Homo sapiens: one gene and its partners. The protein of the gene in region 1 purifies or fractionates together with the protein of each later gene. This does not show direct contact. Each region holds a gene or a part of one and is shown in the gene's direction. Other genes may lie near its edges. The genes, in order: HSF2, ASAH1, DSG3, FBXO24, PRCC, PLXNA3 and ECI2.

What was found.
Region 2: the proteins of HSF2 (region 1) and ASAH1 purify together in Homo sapiens (affinity purification with mass spectrometry; 2 studies listed by BioGRID and IntAct, with this or other methods). This does not show direct contact.
Region 3: the proteins of HSF2 (region 1) and DSG3 purify together in Homo sapiens (affinity purification with mass spectrometry; one large-scale study listed by BioGRID and IntAct). This does not show direct contact.
Region 4: the proteins of HSF2 (region 1) and FBXO24 purify together in Homo sapiens (affinity purification with a luminescence readout; one large-scale study listed by IntAct). This does not show direct contact.
Region 5: the proteins of HSF2 (region 1) and PRCC purify together in Homo sapiens (affinity purification with mass spectrometry; one large-scale study listed by BioGRID and IntAct). This does not show direct contact.
Region 6: the proteins of HSF2 (region 1) and PLXNA3 purify together in Homo sapiens (affinity purification with mass spectrometry; one large-scale study listed by BioGRID and IntAct). This does not show direct contact.
Region 7: the proteins of HSF2 (region 1) and ECI2 purify together in Homo sapiens (affinity purification with mass spectrometry; one large-scale study listed by BioGRID and IntAct). This does not show direct contact.

Annotation. Positions count from the first base shown.
Region 1 is NC_000006.12:122,409,652-122,413,151, forward strand, and holds part of HSF2 (heat shock factor protein 2), read left to right. Parts: intron 1-2,721; coding exon 2,722-2,830; intron 2,831-2,985; coding exon 2,986-3,113; intron 3,114-3,500. UniProt on the Homo sapiens protein: DNA-binding protein that specifically binds heat shock promoter elements (HSE) and activates transcription. In higher eukaryotes, HSF is unable to bind to the HSE unless the cells are heat shocked.
Region 2 is NC_000008.11:18,055,492-18,057,799, reverse strand, and holds the end of ASAH1 (acid ceramidase isoform a preproprotein), read left to right. Parts: intron 1-176; coding exon 177-266; 3' UTR 267-1,808; downstream 1,809-2,308. UniProt on the Homo sapiens protein: Lysosomal ceramidase that hydrolyzes sphingolipid ceramides into sphingosine and free fatty acids at acidic pH.
Region 3 is NC_000018.10:31,468,241-31,471,740, forward strand, and holds part of DSG3 (desmoglein-3 preproprotein), read left to right. Parts: intron 1-848; coding exon 849-1,109; intron 1,110-3,500. UniProt on the Homo sapiens protein: A component of desmosome cell-cell junctions which are required for positive regulation of cellular adhesion. Required for adherens and desmosome junction assembly in response to mechanical force in keratinocytes.
Region 4 is NC_000007.14:100,589,328-100,592,827, forward strand, and holds part of FBXO24 (F-box only protein 24), read left to right. Parts: intron 1-73; exon of another isoform or gene 74-313; coding exon of another isoform or gene 314-466; exon of another isoform or gene 467-649; coding exon 650-748; exon of another isoform or gene 749-755; intron 756-846; coding exon 847-1,030; intron 1,031-2,339; coding exon 2,340-2,575; intron 2,576-3,455; coding exon 3,456-3,500. UniProt on the Homo sapiens protein: Substrate-recognition component of the SCF (SKP1-CUL1-F-box protein)-type E3 ubiquitin ligase complex.
Region 5 is NC_000001.11:156,784,535-156,788,034, forward strand, and holds part of PRCC (proline-rich protein PRCC), read left to right. Parts: intron 1-2,073; coding exon 2,074-2,640; intron 2,641-3,500. UniProt on the Homo sapiens protein: May regulate cell cycle progression through interaction with MAD2L2.
Region 6 is NC_000023.11:154,456,938-154,461,080, forward strand, and holds the start of PLXNA3 (plexin-A3 precursor), read left to right. Parts: upstream 1-1,343; 5' UTR 1,344-1,491; intron 1,492-3,219; 5' UTR 3,220-3,246; coding exon 3,247-3,840; intron 3,841-4,143. UniProt on the Homo sapiens protein: Coreceptor for SEMA3A and SEMA3F. Necessary for signaling by class 3 semaphorins and subsequent remodeling of the cytoskeleton. Plays a role in axon guidance in the developing nervous system.
Region 7 is NC_000006.12:4,129,076-4,132,575, reverse strand, and holds part of ECI2 (enoyl-CoA delta isomerase 2), read left to right. Parts: intron 1-1,710; coding exon 1,711-1,809; intron 1,810-1,810; exon of another isoform or gene 1,811-2,015; coding exon 2,016-2,204; intron 2,205-2,214; exon of another isoform or gene 2,215-2,434; intron 2,435-3,500. UniProt on the Homo sapiens protein: Able to isomerize both 3-cis and 3-trans double bonds into the 2-trans form in a range of enoyl-CoA species. Has a preference for 3-trans substrates.

The DNA of each region.
Region 1 (3,500 bases):
GCTCTACATTCTTCATTTATGAGTCTGGGTCTCTTCTAAATTTCACAATGTGTTTTTCATCAAAATTGTGTTTCTGTTAGGAAGAAAGTAGAGGAGAGTAGAGATAGAGTAGGAAGCTAGCAGTCTCCATGGATAAATTTATATTTTATCTATATGTCTTCTGGGTTTATTATGTCATGTCTCCAAAAGCTTGCTTGTAAAGAGTAAGATGACATCGAGCTCTTATTTTTCTTCCCAAATGGAAAATTTCTTAATCCTTTTCTTTCCTGATTATCCCCCCATTTGAATGCCATCTTGACTTACTACCTGGTAAATTCTCAGATAGATTTGCTGGTTCATCTGTCCTCTCTAGTCAGTCCATTCATCTATGTAATCACTTCTTCTTTTGTACTAAATTGTTAACACTATAATTTTATAATCTGTATTGGGTAGGGTTAAAATACTCCTCCCCATTGTTCTCAATATTTTCTTTCCTGTTGTTATGTAATTATTTTTACAAATGAACTTATGTACCTAACATTTGGTTATGATAGCATCAATTCATCTTTACTCCACAAATCATTTTTTTAATTAAGACAGAATTTAATGTATTGGTTAATTTAGAGAGAATTGACACCTTTACAATACTGCATTTGTCTTCCTTTTGTATTTCTATAGTTTTAATATTTTTAAAGTTCCTGTATATTTTTAAATTTTATTTTTAGATACTTAACATTTTTCTATTATTATTGGGATATTTTATTCCATTTTAGTTTCTAATTTTTTTAATTGTGGTAAAATATACATAACATAAAATTAACCATTTTAAGTGCATTAAGTTAGATTCACATTGTTAGGCAACCATTACCACCATCCATCTCCAGAACAATTTTTATCTTTCCACACTGAAACTTTATACCCATTTCACAATAACTTCTAACTCCTTCCTCCCCGCAGCCCCTGACAACCACCATTCTACTTTTTGTCTCTGAAATTGGCTATTATGGAAACTTCATATAAGGGGAATTGTACAGTATTTGTTCTTTTGTGACTGGCTTATTTCACAGCATAATGTTTTCAAAGTTCTTTTCATGTTGTAGCTTGTGAGAATTTCCTTTTTTAGGTGAAATAATATTTCATTGCATGTATATACCATACTTTATCCATATATATTTCACCATGTGTTGGTGGATACTGAAGTTACTTCTACCTTTTGCCTGTTGTGAAAAATGCTACTGTGAACATGGGGTACAAATATCTGTTCAAGTCGTTGCTTTTATGGTTTTTTTTGTTTTGTTTTTTTGTTGTTGTTTTTGGGTTTTTTTTTTTTTTTTGAGTATATACCTAGGAATGGAATTGCTGGATTATATGTTCTTTGTTTAATTTTTAAAGGAACTATCATAGTGTTTTCCACAGCAACCACACTATTTTAACATTCCCACCAATAATGCACCAATATTCCAATTTCTCCACTTCCTTGTGAACACTTGTTTTATGCGTTTTTGATAATAGCCATTCTAATGGGTGTGCAGTGGTATATTGTTTTAGTTTTGATTTTCATTTCCCTAATGATTTGTGTTACTGACCATCTTTTTATTTGCTTATTGGAAGTTTGTATATCTTCTTTGAAGAAATATCTACTCACATCCTTGCTCGTTTTTTATCGGGTTGTTTGGGTTTTTTTTGTCTTTTGTTCTTTTTGAATTTTAAGAGTTATGTCTATGTTCTGGATATTAACTCCTGAGGTATATGATTTGCACTTTCTTCTTTCCATTCTGAGGGTTGCCTTTTCAGTCTGTTGGTAGTCTTTAGATTTGATGTAGTTCCATTTGTCTATTTTTGCTTTTGTTGCCTGTACTTTTAGTGTTACATTTAATAAATCATTGCCAAGTCTAATGTCATGCTCTACTATTGTTAAAAGTTTCTTTAGCTCTTGTGTTTAGGTCTTTGATTGATTTGAAGTTAGTTTTTATATATGTTATCAGATAAGGGTCTAACTTCATTTTTTTGTATGTAGATATCCAGTTTTCCCAGCACCATTTGTTGAAAAGACTGTCCTTTTTTTATTGAATGGTCTTGACACTGTTGTCAAAAATCCTTTGGCAGGGTTTATTTCTGGGCTGTCTATTTTATTTCATTGATCTATATGTTTGTCAGTATGCCAGTACCATGCTACTTTGATTACTTTATTTTTGTAGTGTTTCCAGGTGTTTGTTTTTTGTAGAGAAAAACACTAGTGACTTTTAATATTAATTTAGTAACCACGTATCTTACTGAATTCTTAAAGGGTTTTTAAATTGATTTTACAAAGATACAATTATGTCTACTATGTCTACTGCAAATAATTATAAAATGGTACTTCCTCTCAAAATCTTTTTTTTTTATTTTGGTCTTAATTGCACTAGTTTTAAAACAATGTTAATTATGCTGTCTACATAATTGTATTTCATTTTCTCATTGCTGGTTTAATGGAAGTTCTAATATTTCACCATAGAGTGTGATGTGGCATTTGGTTTGAGATATGTTCCTAAACTTTTGAGGTTGACATCAAAAAGCTTAGTTGCAATTTGTTGCTTAATTGCAATTTTGTTTCTTGTTCCTGTTGTCAAGAATAGAATGTTGGTCTGAAGACATCAAGGAGGGACTGGACTACTCAAGACAGTTGTGGGATGTATAAATATATCACCATGTGTCATAGGAACTTAACTAATTTACTTTTTCTTTTTTTTTTTCCCCTTGCAGAATGGCCAAAGTTTTCTGGTCTTGGATGAGCAACGATTTGCAAAAGAAATTCTTCCCAAATATTTCAAGCACAATAATATGGCAAGCTTTGTGAGGCAACTGAATATGTGTGAGTATGGACAGCAGTTTATTGGAGTACCATTATCAGCTACTGATGAAGCCATTTTTTTTCCCATTAGGGTGGTAAAGGAAAATTATTCCATACAAGCACCACCAAATTTTGACTTGTTTATTTTAGTCATTTGAATTTTGAATATTTTTCAGATGGTTTCCGTAAAGTAGTACATATCGACTCTGGAATTGTAAAGCAAGAAAGAGATGGTCCTGTAGAATTTCAGCATCCTTACTTCAAACAAGGACAGGATGACTTGTTGGAGAACATTAAAAGGAAGGTGAGCTATTGTGAACGTGAGCTAATTAGGGTATTGACCTGGAGTGTGCTTGGCCAAGATTTTTATTTCAGCTGTTGAAAGTACAGAAATGCACAACTGTTCCTTGTTGGGATGAATTAGGATAATAAAGTTTTACTTGTTTCCCTGTATTTTTTTCCTAAGTTAGCTTAAAAAAAAAAAAAAGTTTAAGTTCCTGCTAGAATATGAGCTCCCTGGAAGACTTTTTCTATAGTTTGTAATTGTACATCCAGTACCTACAATAAGTCTCTTCTAATAATATAAATATGCCCACATAGTAGGCATTCAGAAATACATTCAGTAATATATTTTTTAATGCATAATATCTTTTGGTAAAATAAGATATTTTACTAAATCTGTAAAAGGGGT
Region 2 (2,308 bases), on another chromosome or scaffold:
TTATACTATATTAATATAAATATATACATTATATAACATGCTTTGCATATATTAAGTTATATTATTTAATATTAAATAACTTCTAAAGCAAATTCTACAAGTATAGAAATGCTAATATATATCAGAACATCTCTGAATTGAAAACGTCCTTAAAGTAAAAATAACTTTTCTTTCAGCTGACCGTATACACAACCTTGATAGATGTTACCAAAGGTCAATTCGAAACTTACCTGCGGGACTGCCCTGACCCTTGTATAGGTTGGTGAGCACACGTCTGGCCTACAGAATGCGGCCTCTGAGACATGAAGACACCATCTCCATGTGACCGAACACTGCAGCTGTCTGACCTTCCAAAGACTAAGACTCGCGGCAGGTTCTCTTTGAGTCAATAGCTTGTCTTCGTCCATCTGTTGACAAATGACAGATCTTTTTTTTTTCCCCCTATCAGTTGATTTTTCTTATTTACAGATAACTTCTTTAGGGGAAGTAAAACAGTCATCTAGAATTCACTGAGTTTTGTTTCACTTTGACATTTGGGGATCTGGTGGGCAGTCGAACCATGGTGAACTCCACCTCCGTGGAATAAATGGAGATTCAGCGTGGGTGTTGAATCCAGCACGTCTGTGTGAGTAACGGGACAGTAAACACTCCACATTCTTCAGTTTTTCACTTCTACCTACATATTTGTATGTTTTTCTGTATAACAGCCTTTTCCTTCTGGTTCTAACTGCTGTTAAAATTAATATATCATTATCTTTGCTGTTATTGACAGCGATATAATTTTATTACATATGATTAGAGGGATGAGACAGACATTCACCTGTATATTTCTTTTAATGGGCACAAAATGGGCCCTTGCCTCTAAATAGCACTTTTTGGGGTTCAAGAAGTAATCAGTATGCAAAGCAATCTTTTATACAATAATTGAAGTGTTCCCTTTTTCATAATTACTCTACTTCCCAGTAACCCTAAGGAAGTTGCTAACTTAAAAAACTGCATCCCACGTTCTGTTAATTTAGTAAATAAACAAGTCAAAGACTTGTGGAAAATAGGAAGTGAACCCATATTTTAAATTCTCATAAGTAGCATTCATGTAATAAACAGGTTTTTAGTTTGTTCTTCAGATTGATAGGGAGTTTTAAAGAAATTTTAGTAGTTACTAAAATTATGTTACTGTATTTTTCAGAAATCAAACTGCTTATGAAAAGTACTAATAGAACTTGTTAACCTTTCTAACCTTCACGATTAACTGTGAAATGTACGTCATTTGTGCAAGACCGTTTGTCCACTTCATTTTGTATAATCACAGTTGTGTTCCTGACACTCAATAAACAGTCACTGGAAAGAGTGCCAGTCAGCAGTCATGCACGCTGATTGGGTGTGTACATCTGTGTTGGTTTGGAGGAGGGGGGTTATTATCAAGAAATACAAGCTGAACATCGTATCTGAATTAAATAACAAGGGTTATGTAAGTGGGTTATTAAATATGACTAAACGGTCACAATCTTACTCTTACATGACTGATACCACCTCTTAACCAGATACTATCAACCCAATTTGCAGGTGTTTAAAGGCAGTTTTTCCCCCAGATAGGTGGTGCTTCCACAAAACTTTAGTGATTCCAAGATTACTTTAGTGAAACGAGGAATTATAAGAGGATTTACATTAAAATAGGATTTAATTAATGAAAAAAAAACTTTACTCAGATTTTCTACCTCTTACATAAATGAAGTCAGGTCAACTTGATGTATTTTTTTGTTAATGTAATAACCTTTGATATGCCTGATAGTAAAGAGGTGAGATGCTAATTGTTTCAGACCGATTTCTCCGGAGTAAATCAAAGTTTACAAGAAATAACAGGTATTAAGATTTTAGGAAGTAATTGTTTAGTGGTAAAGCAGTTTTAAAATAGGATATACAGGATGAGCCTGTTTATATAACACTTTATATATGTACTTATGCATAACTAGATACACATCTAGAATATCAAAAGATGACTGGGAGGATATTAACCAAAATGCTGACTGTAGTTCCTACTGGATAATGGCAAGTGCTATTTTAATTTTGAGAGGACAAAACTTAGTAGCCATTGGACATTAATGAGACTCTATTTTTAGAAATACTATAAAAAAATAAGGTCCAGGTTGGATCCAAACCATGGGCTCCATCTAATTTCCCTGCCAAGTTTTCGGGAGTTTGATTGTGAATGGAAGGCTGAATCCTACCTGTATTCCTTCACACATCGAGCTCCTCAGTCACTCATCTTAATTAGAGCTCTTGCTTATCCATTTATGTACCAGGCCTTGTG
Region 3 (3,500 bases), on another chromosome or scaffold:
TGCAGCTCACGGGATAAGAACCAGGAAGAGCACTTGAGGTAGTAGCAGCCAAAGTTGAAAGTCTTGATAAGTAAAACACAAGAACACAAAGTCAGGAACACTAACACTCAAAGGGCCACACAAGTCCAAGGATTGGTGCAGACATACAAGAGAGTGGTTAAGCCCCAGAAGAGGAGTACCTGACTCTAAATGATGTCGCCCATCTTCTTTAGTGGGAAAAGCAGAGTAGAACTGAGTTTCATGGGAGAGAATAATTGGCCTACCTGCAACAGAGAGGACAAGGAGGCAGGTGTAGACAGATTTACCCACTTGAACCCATTATAGCCCTCATCACTGCTCAAACATCACTCTATTATCAACCCTATTGTTTGTGGCAACTAACTCTGCTAATGAAAATAAGTAGTAAGAGTGTAAGACACTGCTGTGGTTGGAATAGGTCTTCCAAAGCTCATGTGTTGAAAACTTAATCCCCACTGCAGTAGTGTTGAGAGGTGAGACCTGTAAGAGGAAATGAGGTCATGAGAGCTCTGTCCTCATGCATGGATTAATGGTGTTACCATGGGAGTGGGTTCATTACAGTAAGAGTGAGTTGTTATAAGGGTGAGTTCAGCCCCCACGTGCTCTCATGCTCTCTTGTCCTTCCACCTTCCACCGTGGGATGATGAAGTCCAAAGGCCTTTGTCAGATTCTGACACCTTGATATTGAGCTTCCCAACCTTCAAAACTGTGAGAAATAAATGTGTTTTCTTTATGAATTATCCAGTCTGTGATATTCTGTTATAGCAACACAAAATAGACTGAAAAGACACTTCGTCCTACTGTTGATTTGCATGATTCTTTCTCTACAGCTACCTCGGCCCTCCTCAGAGCCCAGGAACAGATACCTCCTGGAGTATACCACATCTCCCTGGTACTTACAGACAGTCAGAACAATCGGTGTGAGATGCCACGCAGCTTGACACTGGAAGTCTGTCAGTGTGACAACAGGGGCATCTGTGGAACTTCTTACCCAACCACAAGCCCTGGGACCAGGTATGGCAGGCCGCACTCAGGGAGGCTGGGGCCTGCCGCCATCGGCCTGCTGCTCCTTGGTCTCCTGCTGCTGCTGTGTGAGTAGCCAATGTTTCATTCTCTGTTGGACCAGGTGTCCTCATTTGCAAAGGCCTCCATGCTGCCCTGCTCATCTGTGCAATGGGGAAAGAATATTCTCTGATGTTTTATAGGTAAAGCTAGGGGAAAATGGCATTTTCAGAAAGAATCTGAAATGTGTAACATGTCGCTTGCTAACAGTCTATATTCATATAGCAACACAAGTTATATATGTCAGACATTTAGAAGACAGCACAAGATAATCAAGAGAAAAGCAAATCATGAAGACTTTCTACACACTGTTAGTAATGTTCATGGTCAAAATTATGGCTTTATCCAAGAGTGTGGCACTTTCTAAGATGTTTTCTCTATATTCATTACATCTCATGAGATTCTAAGATAAAAAGAGAACACTAGTCAAACAAAGTTAGGGAAATACAAATAGGGTATCATAGGCTATTAAGATATCACCACATGCTATTAATATTAATTAATTAATTAACCCCCACTAATATTAATCAATAGCATATGATATTAATATTAATATCATATGCTATTAAGATAGCTAGGTTCTGAGAAGTTATTGCTTCATCTAGCATTTCCTCAAAATAGATTGCCATCTGAATATGCATCCCCTTTAATACTTTCACATTTAATATAACTAAGTTTATTAAACACATTTAGAAAACTATGCGTAAGTATCCTTTTCCAATAAAGGTAAAATTTATTCAATAGATAGGTTTCTGAAAAGTTGTATTTGAATCAAAATCATATAAATCAAATAGTATTTGATTGTAAGAGGTCTCTATTTAAAAGAACTTCCTGACTAATTCTTGTATAAACAAGAGAAATCCTTGCTAAATTCACACTTTCTTAATTTATTATAAAAATCACAGTTTTAGAGTTAAAATTAATTATATGATTATTAATTTTAAAACCACAAAAAGTAGAGAAAATGTGTAGACAACTACACATACAACCATCACTTCAACTGAACAGATATGAATGTTTTGCAATATTTTTTCAGGTCCCTTTTTTTAAAAAGAAATAAATTGCTATAGATACAGCTAATTGCCACACATGCTATATTTTTCCCTTCCTTATTCTCCAAAAGCATTTACTATTCTAAAGTTATTATACACCATTTAGTTTAAGAGCTGAAATTGACACTCAGAGATTTGGTTTTTCAATATCGTATTAATCAAGTTCAAGAACCAGAAATTTTTAAGTACCTCTATGTGAATCACTATGCTAGCTTCTAGCTGAAAAGGAAACTTGATTTTGGTTTTCATGCATGTCTAACTATAGGGGAAAAATACCATGATAAAGCTGTAATAGAAATTACTACAAAGGGGTAATTACAGAACATTTCACGGAATAGAGGAATCATTCAATTGAGCCTTGAAGAATGATTAGGATATAATCAGTATAAAAAATGGAAAAGGCATTTCCAAAAATTGACAGCATCAGCCAAGGCCAGAAAACACTTAGTATTTTCTGTTTTAGGAATCACACAGCCTTCGAAGGCTAAAGCGCGGGGAAATTGTGGAAAGTGAAGGAGCAACAGAGAATGCATTGGGACTAATTTGAAAGGGCTACATACACATGCTGTGGTGTTTGTACTTTATCCTATGAGAAAGAGGAGCTGCTAAAAGCATTTGAATAAAAGACTAACATGATCATATTTGTATTTTAGAAAGACAACCCTGGCAACAGTGTGTACAGTATAACAGTGTAAATTAGAAAGGAAAGAACACTTAAGAGGTCATTGTAAAAGTTCAAGAGAGATGATGAAGGTCAGATTTCGAGCTGTGACATGAGACTGGAAAATAAAGGACAAGTGTGCAGTGCATTACAGTGGCCCCTGGAGAGGATTGGGAGATTAATTGTTATGGTCTGAATGTGTGTGTCCCCCCAAAAAAATTCATATGTTGAAACTTAAACCCTAAAAAAATAGTATTAAGGAGTTGGGCCTTTACCTATATTAATTCAATCCTCATAACAACCTATGATGTAGATACTATTTATTCCCCCATTTTATGGATGAGTTAACTGAGCAAAGAAGGATGATATTACATGCCCAACATTACATAGCTGTTAAGTGGTACAGCCGAAATTTAAACCCTAGAATCTGACTTCGGAGGCTGCATGCTTAAACCCCTCACTAAGCTGCCTCTAAGTGAAGAGAGTTGAAACATTAGGATTCAGGTGGCCTTGGCAGGGCAGAGGTGGCAGTGGGGCCACTGACAACAAAGTGTGGGAAACACCTGCTTTCAAGAATAAGTATTTCACTCTTGGTCAGTTCACATGAGAATGACATTAATCTTTATTGCCAAGGATGTGCACAGAAAGATATTTACGCTGCCAGAAGAGTCCTCCAAGCTTAAGCCACAACTAAGAAATTCTTAAAT
Region 4 (3,500 bases), on another chromosome or scaffold:
CTCTACAGAGTTAGTGCTAAAAGGGCCTCAAATAGGAAAACTTCCTCCTGCTCCCTGAAATAAAGATGTCACCTACCAGTAATTCACACTTTATTTCTCCAGTAAAATGCATATCCCTTGAGCCATGTGATGGCTAGAACTGAGCTAGAACCCAGGAGCTGTCTAAGAGATGGGTCCTGGGCAAGATTAAAGGGAACAGGTCACAGTGGCCAAACAGTGAGGTCACAGAGAGGTTTGTTAGCCCCAGACTCCATGGGGGAGGGGCCTAGGAGGCAGAGGGGCCTCAGAGGTCCCCCAAGCCTAGGCTGGGGACATGGTGTGGGAAAGCCAGCAGGAACGGGGGGGCCAAGGGCCTAGGAGACAGGAGGGCAGGAGCAGGGAGGGGGCAATCAGGATGGTCAGGGGAAGCCAGAGACGGAAGCTGCAAAAATTCACCAGGCTGTGTGGACGGGAGGAGGGGCTCCGGGTGAGGGGGATTGGCCGCAGGAGATCGGGAGGAGTTATTTGGAGAAGTTAGGGATGGGTCTGGAGAGAGAGGGGAGGAAATAACTGTGCCCAGCTAGAGTCAGATGAGCCCCAAGGTAGGCGGAGAGAAGGGAAAAAAGGATGTGGGACCCTCATGGGACCCTATGCACCCCTTCTTGGGTAGGTGAAGAGAAGCTGCCCTTCTTGTGGCTCGGAGCTTGGGGTTGAAGAGAAGAGGGGGAAAGGAAATCCGATTTCCATCCAGTTGTTCCCCCCAGAGCTGGTGAGTCCTTGGGGAGGGGGATTGAGAATAATAGGATTGGGGGCCAGATCACCGAGGGGCCACCAAAGACTCCCCGCTTCTTCCCTCCTCCCTCCCAGGTGGAGCATATCATCTCATTCCTCCCAGTCAGAGACCTTGTTGCCCTCGGCCAGACCTGCCGCTACTTCCACGAAGTGTGCGATGGGGAAGGCGTGTGGAGACGCATCTGTCGCAGACTCAGTCCGCGCCTCCAAGATCAGGGTTCTGGAGTCCGGCCCTGGAAGAGAGCTGCCATTCTGAACTGTACACCTTCCCCAGAACCTCCCGTTCTCCTTGCCTCTGTCCCGCCTTAGCCTTCCTGCTCTCTAAAGTCCCCTGATGACCCCCACACTCCCAACAGTGCTTCCAGGGCCCCTTTCTCCGGAAGAAACGGGTCCAGTTCAAACATTCTCCCTTGAGTACTTCCTCCAAGTCTTCGGAATCCACCCACAGCCCCCGTTAGCGGCCTCCCTGCCAAGTCTCCCTCTGTACACAGACACTTCCCGCTTTTTCCCTAGAGGCATCCCTCACTCCCCAAACCTGGAGTTTTCCCTCCTCTAACCCAAGGCTTCTGAACTCACTGTTGATATTCTGGGCAAAATAATTCCTTGATGTGGGGAGCTGTCCTCTGCATGGTGGGATGTTTAAGCAGCAACCCTGGCCTCCACCCACCAGATGGCCAGCAGCATCCCCCTTAATTGTGACAACCAATGCCCTTGAAGGACAAAATCACCCCTAGCCTGAGAACCATGCCATAAACCCTCTTCCCCTCCAGGGATCCCCCAGGGTGTACTTCTTACACTCACTGGGAGATTAAAAGAGAAGGGGGACCCAGAAAACAGATCCAAAGCTAGGGGTGAGGGAGGATGACCGGCCTTCATCAATCATTCCTTTTCACTCCTGTTTCTGTCTCTTCTCTTTTCTTTCTTTTTCTTTGATTTTTTTTTTTTTTTTTTTTTTTTGAGACAGGGTCTTGCTCTGTCACCCAGGCTGGAGCACAGTGGTGCAATCTTGGCTCAATGCAACCTCCACCTCCCGGGTTCAAGTATTCTCGTGCCTCAGCCTCCTGAGTAGCTGGGATTACAGGCTCCCGCCACCACACCCGGATAATTTTTGTATTTTTAGTAGAGATGGGGTTTTGCCACGTTGCCCAGGCTGGTCTCAAACTCCTGGGCTCCCAAAGTGCTGGGATTACAGGCGTGCAAAAATTCACTGAGCTGTGAGGATGGGAGGAGGGGCTCAGGGTGAGGGGGGTGGATGCCGCACGCAGCCTCTGTGTCTTTATTCTTAGAGTTTTCCTCAACATCACTGATGCAAGGTTGCACCAAAGAACTGCTCACTAAGAAGCAAATGTTTGACCCTGGGCTGAGGTGGGGTGGAGACTAAAGTTCACATGTCGAGTATAATCTAAGCTTATTTTCCACATCTCCTTCATAAGGGGTCTGTTTGTTCCCCTGTCCTGGGGATGGGGAGGAACTACAAACCAGCGTGTCTAAGAAATCTACCCAAGCTCCAACTCATCTCCCTCGTGTCATCTCATCCCTTGAACCTTCCATCTCCTTCCTTCCTCCAGACACGAAGGGCCTGTATTTCCAGGCATTTGGAGGCCGCCGCCGATGTCTCAGCAAGAGCGTGGCCCCCTTGCTAGCCCACGGCTACCGCCGCTTCTTGCCCACCAAGGATCACGTCTTCATTCTTGACTACGTGGGGACCCTCTTCTTCCTCAAAAATGCCCTGGTCTCCACCCTCGGCCAGATGCAGTGGAAGCGGGCCTGTCGCTATGTTGTGTTGTGTCGTGGAGCCAAGGATGTGAGTAGCAGAACCCTGGCAGCTGAGAGCCCACCTGTATTAGTCCATTTTCACACTGCTATAAAGACGTACCAGAGGCCGGGTGCAGTGGCTTACACCTGTAATCCTAGCACTTTGGGAGGCTGAGGCAGGCGGATCAGCTGAGACCAGGAGTTCGAGACCAGCCTGGCCAAATGGCGAAACCCGTCTCTACTAAAAATACAAAAATTAGCTGGGTGTGGTGGTGGGTGCCTATAATTCCAGCTACTTGGGAGGCTGAGGCAGGAGAATTGCTTGAACTTGGGAGGCAGAGGCTGCAGTGAGCTGAGATCGCACCCTTGCACTCCAGCCTGGGCAACAAGAGGGAGACTCCGTCTCGAAAAAAAAAGACATACCTGAGACCGGGTAATTTATAAGGCAAAGAGGTTTAATTGACTCATAGTTCCACATGACTGGGGAGGCCTCAGGAAACTTACAATCATGGCAGAAGGGAAAGAGGCACGTCTTACATGGCAGCAGGCGAGAGCACACAAGCAAGAGCAGGGAAAACTGCCTTATAAATCCGTCAGACCTCGTGAGAACCCACTATCACGAAAACAACATGGGGGAAATTGCCCCCGTGAGCCAATCACCTCCCACTGGGTATTACAATTCGAGATGAGATTTGGGTGGGGGCACAGAGCCTAACCATATCACCACCTCTCTTTTGAGGACCCAGGCCCCCATCAGTCTTGAGGTGTCTTTCCTATGACTTCTGCCCTCCCACATAGGAACCTGAAATCAAGGGCTCATTTCCCAACTCTGGACCCAAGCATTTCACTTCCCACCCCAGGATCCAGCTGCCCCAGCCCCATCCCATTTTGAAACTCTAGATCCCAGACGCCCTCATCTTTTCCCCCAGTTTGCCTCGGACCCAAGGTGTGACACAGTTTACCGTAAATACCTC
Region 5 (3,500 bases), on another chromosome or scaffold:
CCTGAGGGTGTGCTCCGCCCTGTACCTCAGTGTGGTTCCTATGAACCGGAGCCTCTGGGCGCTTCCAGGCTGGACCAAATCTGTGAACACACACACAGCAAGAAGAGCCCAGTCTCCACATGAGCAGTTCTGTGTGGCTTGACTCAAATGTCTTATTTACTCTGGGCATTTCTTGGCTGAGAAGGCTGGAGTACACTAGTACTCTAAGACAGTGACACAGTGACCTTATTCCATTCTCCTTTTCCAATTGGCATTTCCCTTAGCTCTACAGTTAGGCCAAACGGGCCTTTTAGCATAGAGAAAGCAGAATCTGAGAGATTCTTTTGGGTAATAGGAACTCTGGATGGGCTGGGCCAGTGAGCTTACAGATCAAAAGTTAAATGCTTGACTCTGGCATTAACAAGCTAATATGCCACATCTATAGGGCTTTCCTTGGGTAGGGTAGGGGACTTTCTTCAGATTAAAAAAATACAGCATATATATATATACACTCATTTCTGGCTGACAAAACTACCTCTGTATGTATGATGGCACTAAAGATACTAAAATTACATATTTTTGTAAAAAGCAGTAATGTCTTAGATTAGGGAAATTTGCAAGCTGAGTAAGTCTGAAAAGAACTGAAGATGATCTTATAAAAACCCTTTCAGTCAGCTAATGTAGAATTCTATGGTCTTAAGTAAAAAATACCCTTAGGCCGGGCGCTGTGGCTCATGCCTGTAATCCCAGCACTTTGGGAGGCCGAGGTGGGTGGATCATAAGGTCAGGTGTTGAAGACCAGCCTGGCCAAGATGGTAAAACCCCGTCTCTACTAAAAATACAAAAATTAGCCAGGCATGCGTGGTGGTGAGCACCTATAATCCCAGCTACTCGGGAGGCTGAGGCAGAGAATTGCTTGAACCTGGGAGGCGGAGGTTGCAGTGAGCCAAGATCATGTCACTGCACTCCATCCTGGGTGATAGAGCGAGACTCCGACCAAAAAAAAAAAATACCCTTAGCACTTAAGTCCTAAGGGAGCTGCCCCACCCAAGCTGAGGCTTCAGGTTCCTATCTAAGGGGGGGAAAAAAAAGAGAAAGGAAATCCTGTTTCCTTTGCTTTGGGGATGGTGACAAGGAGAGCAATTTAAAGGGTTGGAAAAAGCTGTGTCAGGCCCCTTGCAGTCTCTGGACTCACTGCTTCCTTGTTGAACGTGCTGGGCCTCCACTCTTTCCTAGGCGTCATTAGCGCTGCTGAGGGGTCTCGCTCAGGGTTAGCTTTCTCCCTTGGTCAGGGGAAGGGACTTTTTTTTTTTTTTGAGAAGGGGTCTCACTCTGTCACCCAAGCTGGAGTACAGTGGCATGATCTCGGCTCACTGCAACCTCCGCTTCCTGGGTTCAAGCGATTCTTCTGCCTCAGCCTCCCAAGTAGCTGAGATTACAGGCACCCACCACCATGCCTGGCTAATTTTTGTATTTTTAATAGAGACGGGCCTTCAGTATGTTGGTCAGGCTGGTCTCAAACTCCTGACCTCATGATCCGCCCACCTTGGTCTCCCAAAGTGCTGGGATTACAGGCGTGAGCCACCACTGCCCAGCCGGGAAGGGACTTTTGCAACAGTATGAATGTTTCTTTTAGACAGAACCTTGTTCTTGATTTTGGGTAGCATTCCAAAGGAAGGAGAGGGTTCTTGTGTTAAGAGGTCCCTTCAGGACACGGAGAGAGGTTGAGTGATGAGCTGGAGAGACCTGGGCTTTTGGGGAGGAAGGACGATGTGAGGTTAAGAGCATCGTATTTGTTGAAGACACAGAGTTGAGGAAGGCTCGCTCTGTGGAAGAGGGCAGTGGAGCTGGGTTGGGATGGAAGAGAAGAGGAATGATACCTCACCTTGGGAGAAGCAGCCCGCAGAAAGGCCTGAAGTAGCAGGAGTCAAGCCCAGATTAGGTGGTCTGAGTGGACGGAGGTAAGGAAGAAACAAGGGCTGGTAAGATTTTAGGCTAGAGAACTTATCTGTAACTGTTGTTTTTGGTGTTGCTAGTACATAAAATCTCACTTGTCATCTTTCTTTCCTCCTATCCCACACCTGGGCTCACCAGGGATCCAGTGAGGGGACTGGTTTGTCTGCCTTGCTTCCCCAACCTAAAAACCTGACTGTGAAAGAGACTAACAGGTTGCTCCTGCCCCATGCCTTCTCCCGCAAACCCTCGGATGGCTCCCCTGATACTAAGCCCTCCAGACTGGCTTCTAAGACCAAGACTTCCTCTCTTGCCCCTGTTGTGGGCACCACAACCACCACTCCGTCGCCCTCTGCTATCAAGGCTGCTGCCAAGAGTGCTGCCCTGCAGGTGACAAAGCAGATCACGCAGGAAGAAGACGACAGTGATGAGGAAGTAGCCCCCGAAAACTTTTTCTCCCTCCCTGAAAAGGCTGAGCCACCTGGAGTTGAGCCATACCCTTACCCCATCCCCACTGTCCCTGAAGAGCTGCCTCCAGGCACGGAACCAGAGCCGGCTTTCCAGGACGATGCAGCCAATGCCCCCCTTGAATTCAAGATGGCAGCAGGTTCAAGTGGGGCCCCTTGGATGCCTAAGCCTGGGGACGACTACAGCTACAATCAGTTTTCCACATATGGCGATGCCAATGCCGCTGGTGCTTATTATCAGGTGGGTAGGAGGCACAGAGGGCAGGCGAGGGAATGTTGGAACATGGTGGTCAAGGAGAGCTTTGAGCTAGTGATACAGCCTCTGTGGTGTCACTTTGGCTAAATTAACCTTCTCTATTTATTAGGCCACAGAACATACCTTTATTCTGAACCATATTAATCTAAATTGCCCAAGTCTTAAAGTGTGACAGGGTGAACCACATAAATGACATCTTTATTCTGAAAACAATCTATTTATTTTTTATTGATCCATAATATTTGTACATATTTGTGATTGATATATATATATATATATATATATATATATATATATATATATATATATCTGTTTTTTTTTCTTCCTAACCTTTATTTTAGGTTCAGGAGGTACATGTACAGGTTTGTTACATGGGTAAATTGCATGTCACGGGTTTGGTGTACAGATTATTTTGTCACCCCAGGTGATGAGCATAGTACCTGATAGGTAGGTTTTTGGCCTTTTTTTTTTTTTTTTGGAGAAGGAATCTCACTCTGTTGCCCAGGCTGGAGTGCAGTGGCACAATCTTGGCTCAGCTGCAACCTCTGCCTCCCGAGTTCAAGTGATTCTCCTGCCTCAGCCTCCCGAGTAGCTGGGACTACAGATGTGTGCCACCCTAACATGCCCAGCTAATTTTTGTATTTGTATTTTATATTTTTTGAGACGGAGTCTTGCTCTGTTGCCCAGGCTGGAGTGCAGTGGCACGATCTTGACTCACTGCAACCTCCGCCTCCCAGGTTCAAGCAACTCTCCCACCTCAGCCTCCCAAATAGCTGGGACTACAGGCACATTCCACCATGCCCGCTAATTTAATTTTTGTATTTTTAGTAGAGACGGGGTTTCAC
Region 6 (4,143 bases), on another chromosome or scaffold:
TCAGCCTCCTGAGTAGCTGGGACTACAGGCATATGACACCATGTCCGGCTAATTTTTGTATTTTTTGTAGAGATGGGGTTTTGCCATGTTGGCCAGGCTGGTCTCGAACTCCTGACCTCAGGTGATCCGCTCACTTCAGCCTTCCAAAATGCTGGGATTACAGGCTTGAGTCACTGCACCCAGCATATGCCAGTACTTTGGAAGGCTGAGGCAGGAGGATTACTTAAGCCCAGGAGTTCAAGACTAGCCTGGGCAGTGTAGCAAGACCCTGTCTCTCTCTACAAGAATAGGAAAAGTTAGCCAGGCGTGGTGGCACTTGCCTGTGGTCCCAGCTACCTGGGAGGCTGAGGCAGGAGGATCCCTTGAGCCCAGGAAGTCGAGGCTGCAGTGAGCCATGATCCAATGCCGCTACACTGCAGCCTGGGTGATAGAGCGCGACCTCAACTTGGGGGGAAAAATCTGTCTATCTATCTATCTCTCCATATATGTGTTTAATAAAAATGGGCAAATGACTTGAATAGACATTTCTTCAGAGATCATATACAAAAGGCCAGCAAGCACATGAAAAGATGCTGAACACCATTAGTCATCAGGGAAATGAAAAAGAAAACCTTAACGGGGCGCGGTGGCTCACACCTGTAGTCCCAGCACTTTGGGAGGCTGAGGCGGGAGCATCGTTTGAGCCTGGGGCGGTCGAGGCTGCAGTGAGCTATGATCTCACCACTGCACTCCAGCCCGGGTGACAGAGCGAGACCCTGTGTCAAAAGAAAACAAAAAAAGAAAAGGAAAAAGAAAGCAAGGGAAGGAAGAAAGCCCTCGGTTCAGGGTCGCCGGGGAAGGGGCTGGTTTGGACGGCTGTCCCGCAGGCCCTCCGGGTTAGAGACCGTCGGGGGCGTGTCTTGAGCTGGGGACGCGACTCCTCGGCGGGGGTGCACCTGAGAGGCCGGGACCAGCGAGGCCGCGCCCCGGTGGCAGGTGACCCCGGGCGCGTCTCCGAGCGCCAGGGTGGGGCGAGGCGGACGCGCGCCCCAGGCCCGAGGGGGTGTGGCGCGGGCGCGCGCGGGTTCCGGGGTCGCCCGAGGCGGCGGGCGGGGAGCCGGGGCGCGGGGGAGGCGCGCGCCGCGGACGCGGCCATCGAGCGAAGGGGGTCGGCTGGCCGGGCGGGTCCCCCTTCAGGTCGCGGGGGTCAGGGCTGCGCGCGAGGTCCCTGGCCCCGGGGAGCAGCGGCCCCGCCTGCGTCCCCTGCCGCCGCGTCCCCCTCGGCCGGGCGTCCCCGGACGCCCCCGCCCCGCGCGGTGGTACGGTCCGGGTTTAAAAGGCTCCGGCGGCCCCCGGGCCAGCCCAGTGTGTGGGCGGCGGCGGCGGCGGCTGCGCGCTTGGGGCCCGGGGCGCGGGGCGAGGCCGTGGGGACGTGCGAGCGGGGCCGCGGTGGGGCTCGGGGGCGCGTCCACGTGGCCAGAGGGCGGCCACCCGGAGCCAGCGGAGGGACAGGTAGGTGGCCGTCATCGTCGCCGTCCGTGCGGGGCCAAACAGCTCGGGGCCCGGGGCTCCGGCAGCCCGGGGGTCCGGCTCGGCCTGTGGGGGTCAGGCCCTATCCCTGCCCGTCGGCGCCGGCCTGCCCGACTCCTTGTGCCCCGCATGGTGGGGACGCCAACCCAAGACCAACACCCTGCCCAAAGAGGACCCTTTGTCGCAGGGGAGCGGCCCCTCGGAGGATCAACGCTGTACTTCCCTCCCGCTAAGGGCTCCGCGAGTCCGCCGAGGGGTGCCCTGATGGGGCCCGGGCAAACCGGACCAGCAGCACGGTGGGGGGTGTGGGGGGCGGCCGCTGGACCCCCGTCTCTGCGTGGGGCTGCCCCTTCCTCAGGCTCTCTGCTGGCCCAGCTGTACCTGTGATGCCCGAGGTTGCCACTTACAGGTGGGGGCTGGGCCTGAAACTGCCTCCCCAGGTCTCCCTCCCGACCTGTCCCCAGCCTGTTCCTAGGCTTGTGTTCCCGGGGTGTAGAGGAGGTGAAGACAGGATGTGGCCTCTCTTTTCTTTGGCCTTCCTTTCTTCTCCGGCTGTTGCATGAGGGGTCCAGCTGACAAAAGAGCCCTGGAGAGGTGATCAATCTGAGCTGAAACTTTGCAGTTTCAAGCTGGGCCCGCTGCTTGTTCCTGGCAAATGCCTTATTTTTCCTTTCTCTCTCCTGTGCCTCCTTGGTTTGGTTCCCTGCACCACCCCCCGCTCCCCCCCCGCCTCCCGCCCTCAAGCTGGGTACCTCCTATCTCCCCCGGGAGCTCTGGCACTGAGAGGGTAGCGCTGAGCCCTGCCCTGTTGGCTGCCACGACACTGCTCTGCTGTCTTAGCAGCCTGGGGCTGACTGGGTGTGGCCTGGGGACTAAGTGCCAGTCCCAGCACTGTCCCTGTGGCTCCTGCCCTGTCTCTCCAAGGCCTTGACTGTATTTGGGGACATTGCTCCTCCTCTTGTAAGGCTCCTGGGACTCCAAAGGGCAGGTAGGGCCCCCTGTACATTCCCTTCTCCAGTGAACCCCTGGGTCTGGAGGGGGAGCCATGCAGGCTGTGGCTGAGCAGAGCTTGACTGATGTGTGTCTGGGTGCGTGGCTGAGGGGCAGGCGCGACTTGGCTTTGTGTTGCATCGGGGAGGCCAGACAGCGGGCTCCTGGATGGCCAGCTGAGGCCCTTGTCGGGGAGGCAGCTGGGGCCCCTGCAGGGGACATGGTGGTGCTGGATCCTGCATCAGGCCTCCATTCCCCAGACCTCTGTCCCAGGGCTCCTGGTGGCAGTGCCACTCCAGGTGGTGTTCCTGGCCCTGCCCCTCTCCCCCAGCTTGCGATTATTCTGTGCCTGCCTCCCTCTCCCCTCAGCTCAGGCGTTGGGGGCAGCCCAGAGGCCTGGGGCTTGCTGTTCTTTGCTGTTGGTTGCCCCGGGCTCTGAGATGTGGCATCTGGGGTCCCAGTTCCAGCATCTGCTCTGCTACCCCCTTGGGTGTGGCCCAGCTGAGGCGAGGCCTCCTGGCTCCTTTCCAGCATGGGGGCTGAGGGACGATTGATGGCCCCCAAGCCTGCCCTCGCTGGCTGCTCACTCATGCGCCCTGGCGGAGGCCCCTCCTCTCTCCCTGTCACGGTGGCCATCTGGGGCTTTGGCGGGGTGGTGGGTGAATGGCCCAGCCCTCTGTGGCTCGAGGCCTCTGACTCCCACACACCGTCTCTCCCTAGGCCTGTCCCCAGGCGCGGCTGCCGGCCATGCCCTCTGTCTGCCTCCTCCTGCTGCTCTTCCTTGCCGTGGGGGGGGCCCTGGGCAACAGGCCCTTCCGTGCCTTCGTGGTGACAGACACCACGCTTACCCACCTGGCTGTGCACCGGGTGACTGGGGAGGTGTTCGTGGGCGCAGTGAACCGAGTCTTTAAGCTGGCCCCCAACCTGACTGAGCTGCGGGCCCATGTCACGGGGCCCGTCGAGGACAACGCTCGCTGCTACCCGCCCCCCAGCATGCGCGTGTGTGCCCACCGCCTGGCCCCCGTGGACAACATCAACAAGCTGCTGCTCATAGACTATGCGGCCCGCCGCCTGGTGGCCTGCGGCAGCATCTGGCAGGGCATCTGCCAGTTCCTGCGTCTGGACGACCTCTTCAAGCTGGGTGAGCCGCACCACCGCAAGGAGCACTACCTGTCGGGGGCCCAGGAGCCCGACTCCATGGCTGGTGTCATTGTGGAGCAGGGCCAGGGGCCCAGCAAGCTGTTTGTGGGCACTGCTGTCGACGGCAAGTCGGAGTACTTCCCCACCTTGAGCTCCCGCAAGCTCATCAGTGATGAAGACAGCGCGGACATGTTCAGTCTCGTGCGTGAGCCTTCCTTCTCTTCTTCCTCCACCCAGTCCTGGCTCTGCCTCCCAGAAGAGCCCTGTTCTTTCTGAGAGGGGACTTTCGGCTCCTCAGTGTCTGGGATGCAGACAGGTTGCGGAGGGTGGGATGACAGCCTGAACCCAGGTTGCGGGGGTCCCCTGTGTGCAGGGAGGCTGGTCACCCTGCCCTCTGCAGCCTTTCTGGCCTGGGCCTCTGTGATCATCCAGGCGGGAGGGGGATGCAGAGGGAAGCTGGCGGTGGCCCGTGATGTTGGCACAGGGCCTCACCGGATGCTGTCT
Region 7 (3,500 bases), about 120 Mb from region 1:
TATCTATTTTTCTGTCCTATGATGGGTATGAGCTTCTCTTTCATATGGGTGTGTATAGTAAAAAATTTAACCTTGCCCCAGAAGAGGTGTGGCTTTGCCCTCAGCTTCTGGGAAGTGAATCTCTAATGACTGGTAGGAGTCTTTATTTGCCTGGATTGTCTTAACGATGTGATTTAGGGTGGGGGCTTCAGGTTATACAGTCATGCACAGGTGATGGAGCCCTGTTAAAAACTCTGGACACCGAGACTGGATGAGCTGAGCATCTCTGGTTGGCAGGACTCCCTGTGTACTGTCACATCAATTCTGGTAGAGGTGCCCTATGCTGACTCCATGGGGAAAGGACAATGGAAACTCCACATTTGCTACTGCCCCAGACTCCATCCTGTGTGTGTCCTCCCTTGGATGATTCTAATCTCTATCCTTTCCCTTAATAAACTATTAATTGTGCGTTTAACAGCTTGCAGTGAGTTCTGGGTGTCTTTCTAGCAAATTGTTGCACTTGAGGGTGGTCCTGGGTGCCCTCCAGCCTTGCAATTGGTGTTAGCATTGAGGACAGTCAGGAGACAAAGGCAAGCCCTTATCCTGTGGACTGTGTTCCCTCTAACTTCTAGGTTGGCCAACTCTTGCCAGATGACACTATCTCTGTCTAAAGAAATTCATAACCTCCTTTACTGCCTTTTTCTTTTTTCTTTTTTCTTTTGTTTTTATTTTGTTTTTTTGAGACAGAGTTTTGCTCTGTCACGCAGGGTAGAGTGCAGCGGCACCATCTCAGCTCACTGCAACCTCTGCCTCCCAGGTTCAGGCAATCCTTCTGCCTCAGCCTCCCAAGCAGCTGGAATTACAGGAACCTGCCACCATGCCTGGCTAATTTTTGTATTTTTAGTAGAGATGGGGTTTTACCATATTGGTCAGGCTGGTCTCGAACTCCTGACCTCAGGTGATCCACCCACCTCAGCCTCCCAAAGTGCTGAGATTACAGGTGTGAGCCACCACACCTGGCTTGTTTTTCAAAGACTCTTTCTTCTTTCCTCTCTAACTGTATTATAAAATTTTAAAAATTTTAACTGGAATTTTAAATTGCTATTTCTGAAAAGTAGCTGAGTGGGATATTTTATTCATCTCAAAACACCCACTCCACCTAGCCTCAAAAATAAAATTTAATTCCTTTTTGCTTTTTACTTACATGTTCTTCAGTTAGGTTTCCTAAGAACCAGTAGCTCTGATAGCCCCACCCTAGCCCCTCAGCTACAGTTTTGTTACCCAGGTACCAAAAGTCCACCACTGAATTAGTGGTGTTTTTTTTTGTACCTTCAGATGGGCTTTTGGAATATGCTGTGGGTTTTCAAGTATTTGTTGACTAGTTCCTTGTAAAGATTGTTTGCTTGAATATTTTGATTGTTTGTGGAAAATGTGATTACCAATATAAAACTAATGAACCATTAGATTTTTTTAGAAAATACTTCCCCAAAACCTTTATCCTGCATTATTTTCATAGACAGGCAGTTATAATTTATTTCCAGTCTTTTTTCTGTTTGTGCATTTTTGGCAACAACATCAAAGAGACTGGAGGGGAAAATTCAGATCAATTTACATACCCTGTGAAAGGATTTGGGGGAGGCATTCATGTACTTACAGATTTTATGGATCTTAAATATTTAGGGGTCTAGTTTACATGGACATTTGAACATATTGCCCCTCTCCTTTTCACAGGCCACTGAAGGACCTTGTAACATGCCCAAACCAGGTGTATTTGACTTGATCAACAAGGCCAAATGGGACGCATGGAATGCCCTTGGCAGCCTGCCCAAGGTGAGTTTACTAGTTACTGTGCTTTTATTTGCTGTACTTCTAAAGAAGTTTGTGCTTCTCATTAAGCCATTGTAAATGGAGTCTTCAAGATCTTGATGTGCTTCTATTCTTTCTTCATTGCAAGGTGTTAGTTATTAGTATAGTAACTTTCTCAAAGTGCTTATTCATTGACCATGGGCTGAGGTTGTTTGTCATCGTCCGTTCAGGAAGCTGCCAGGCAGAACTATGTGGATTTGGTGTCCAGTTTGAGTCCTTCATTGGAATCCTCTAGTCAGGTGGAGCCTGGAACAGACAGGAAATCAACTGGGTTTGAAACTCTGGTGGTGACCTCCGAAGATGGCATCACAAAGATCATGTTCAACCGGCCCAAAAAGAAAAATGCCATAAACACTGAGGTAATGTTACCTGCCCACGGAGTTTGTCCTGTTTTACTTTCTTCTTCTATGTGTTTCACACAAAAGCTGTAGAGTTTCAGCATCATTCCTATTTTAAGATATCTCTTGTTTGATTTGTGCAGGAAGGTTGGTAATTGTGGCTACTTCATACAACAGAGTTGAGCATTCATTGTTTAGAGTTTGTGAATTTCAGGTAGGTTCTGATATACCCAGAAGGCACTGTGATTTTCCTAATAATGGAAGCAGAAATAAATGAATATAAATGAAACATGTTGCTATGAGAGAATTTGCATAGAAGCCATCTAAGGTTGGTGTAGACTGCTCCCAGAAGTATCTTCATGTCACTTAGACATGAAAGTAAGTCTTTCTGCTTGCACGGGGGCTTCATTTTTTATAAGTATAGGGAGAAAGGAGAGAAGGACTTCATCTTAAACAAATTATCACCCAGCTCCGCTTTAAAGTAGCTGCTTCACTCGGTAACGTTAGTCTTTGAATCTCTCACTGAACTAGAATGATAATAAAATAACTACCTTAGCCCCTTCTTCTTGAAAAAAATTATAGGGAATTAATTGGATGCTTGGTGCTCAACTGGGACTAAAATTTCAGAGGACTATGACCATTGGGTCAATAACCTCCATTGTGGCAGAAAGAGCATACTCACTTTAAAATCATCTTCAGAATTTCATGAAGTAGGATATGTGTCATTCAACTAATAAAGCATTTAATGCTCAAACTTTATTTCCACTTTCCCCTGACTCATTTCTCTACAACTATAATAATAATAGCTACTCTGTACAGAGTGTCTAATGAGTGCCAGCACTCTCCACACAGAAGTTTATTTAATTCTCACAGGGAGCCTACTGTTATCATTACTTAACAATAAAATAATTAGATTAAGAAGTAACTTACTCAAGTTCACATAACAAATAAGCAGCAAAACCTAAATTGAAACCCTGATAGCCAGTCGTGGTGGCTCACCCCTGTAATCCCAGCACTTTGGGAGGCCAAGGTGGGCAGATCACTTGAGGTCAGGAGTTCAAGACCAGCCTGGCCAACATGGTGAAACTCCATCTCTACTAAAGATACAAAAAATTAGCTGGGCATGGTGGTGCGCACCTATAGTCCCAGCTACTCAGGAGGCTGGGGCAGGAGAATCTTTTGAACCGGGGAGGTGGAGGTTGAGCCAAGATCATGCTATTGCACTCTAGCCTGGGCCTCGCAATGAGACTCCATCTCAAAAAAGAAGGAAGGAAGGAAGGGAGGAAGGGAGGGAGGGAGGGAGAAACCCTGATAATC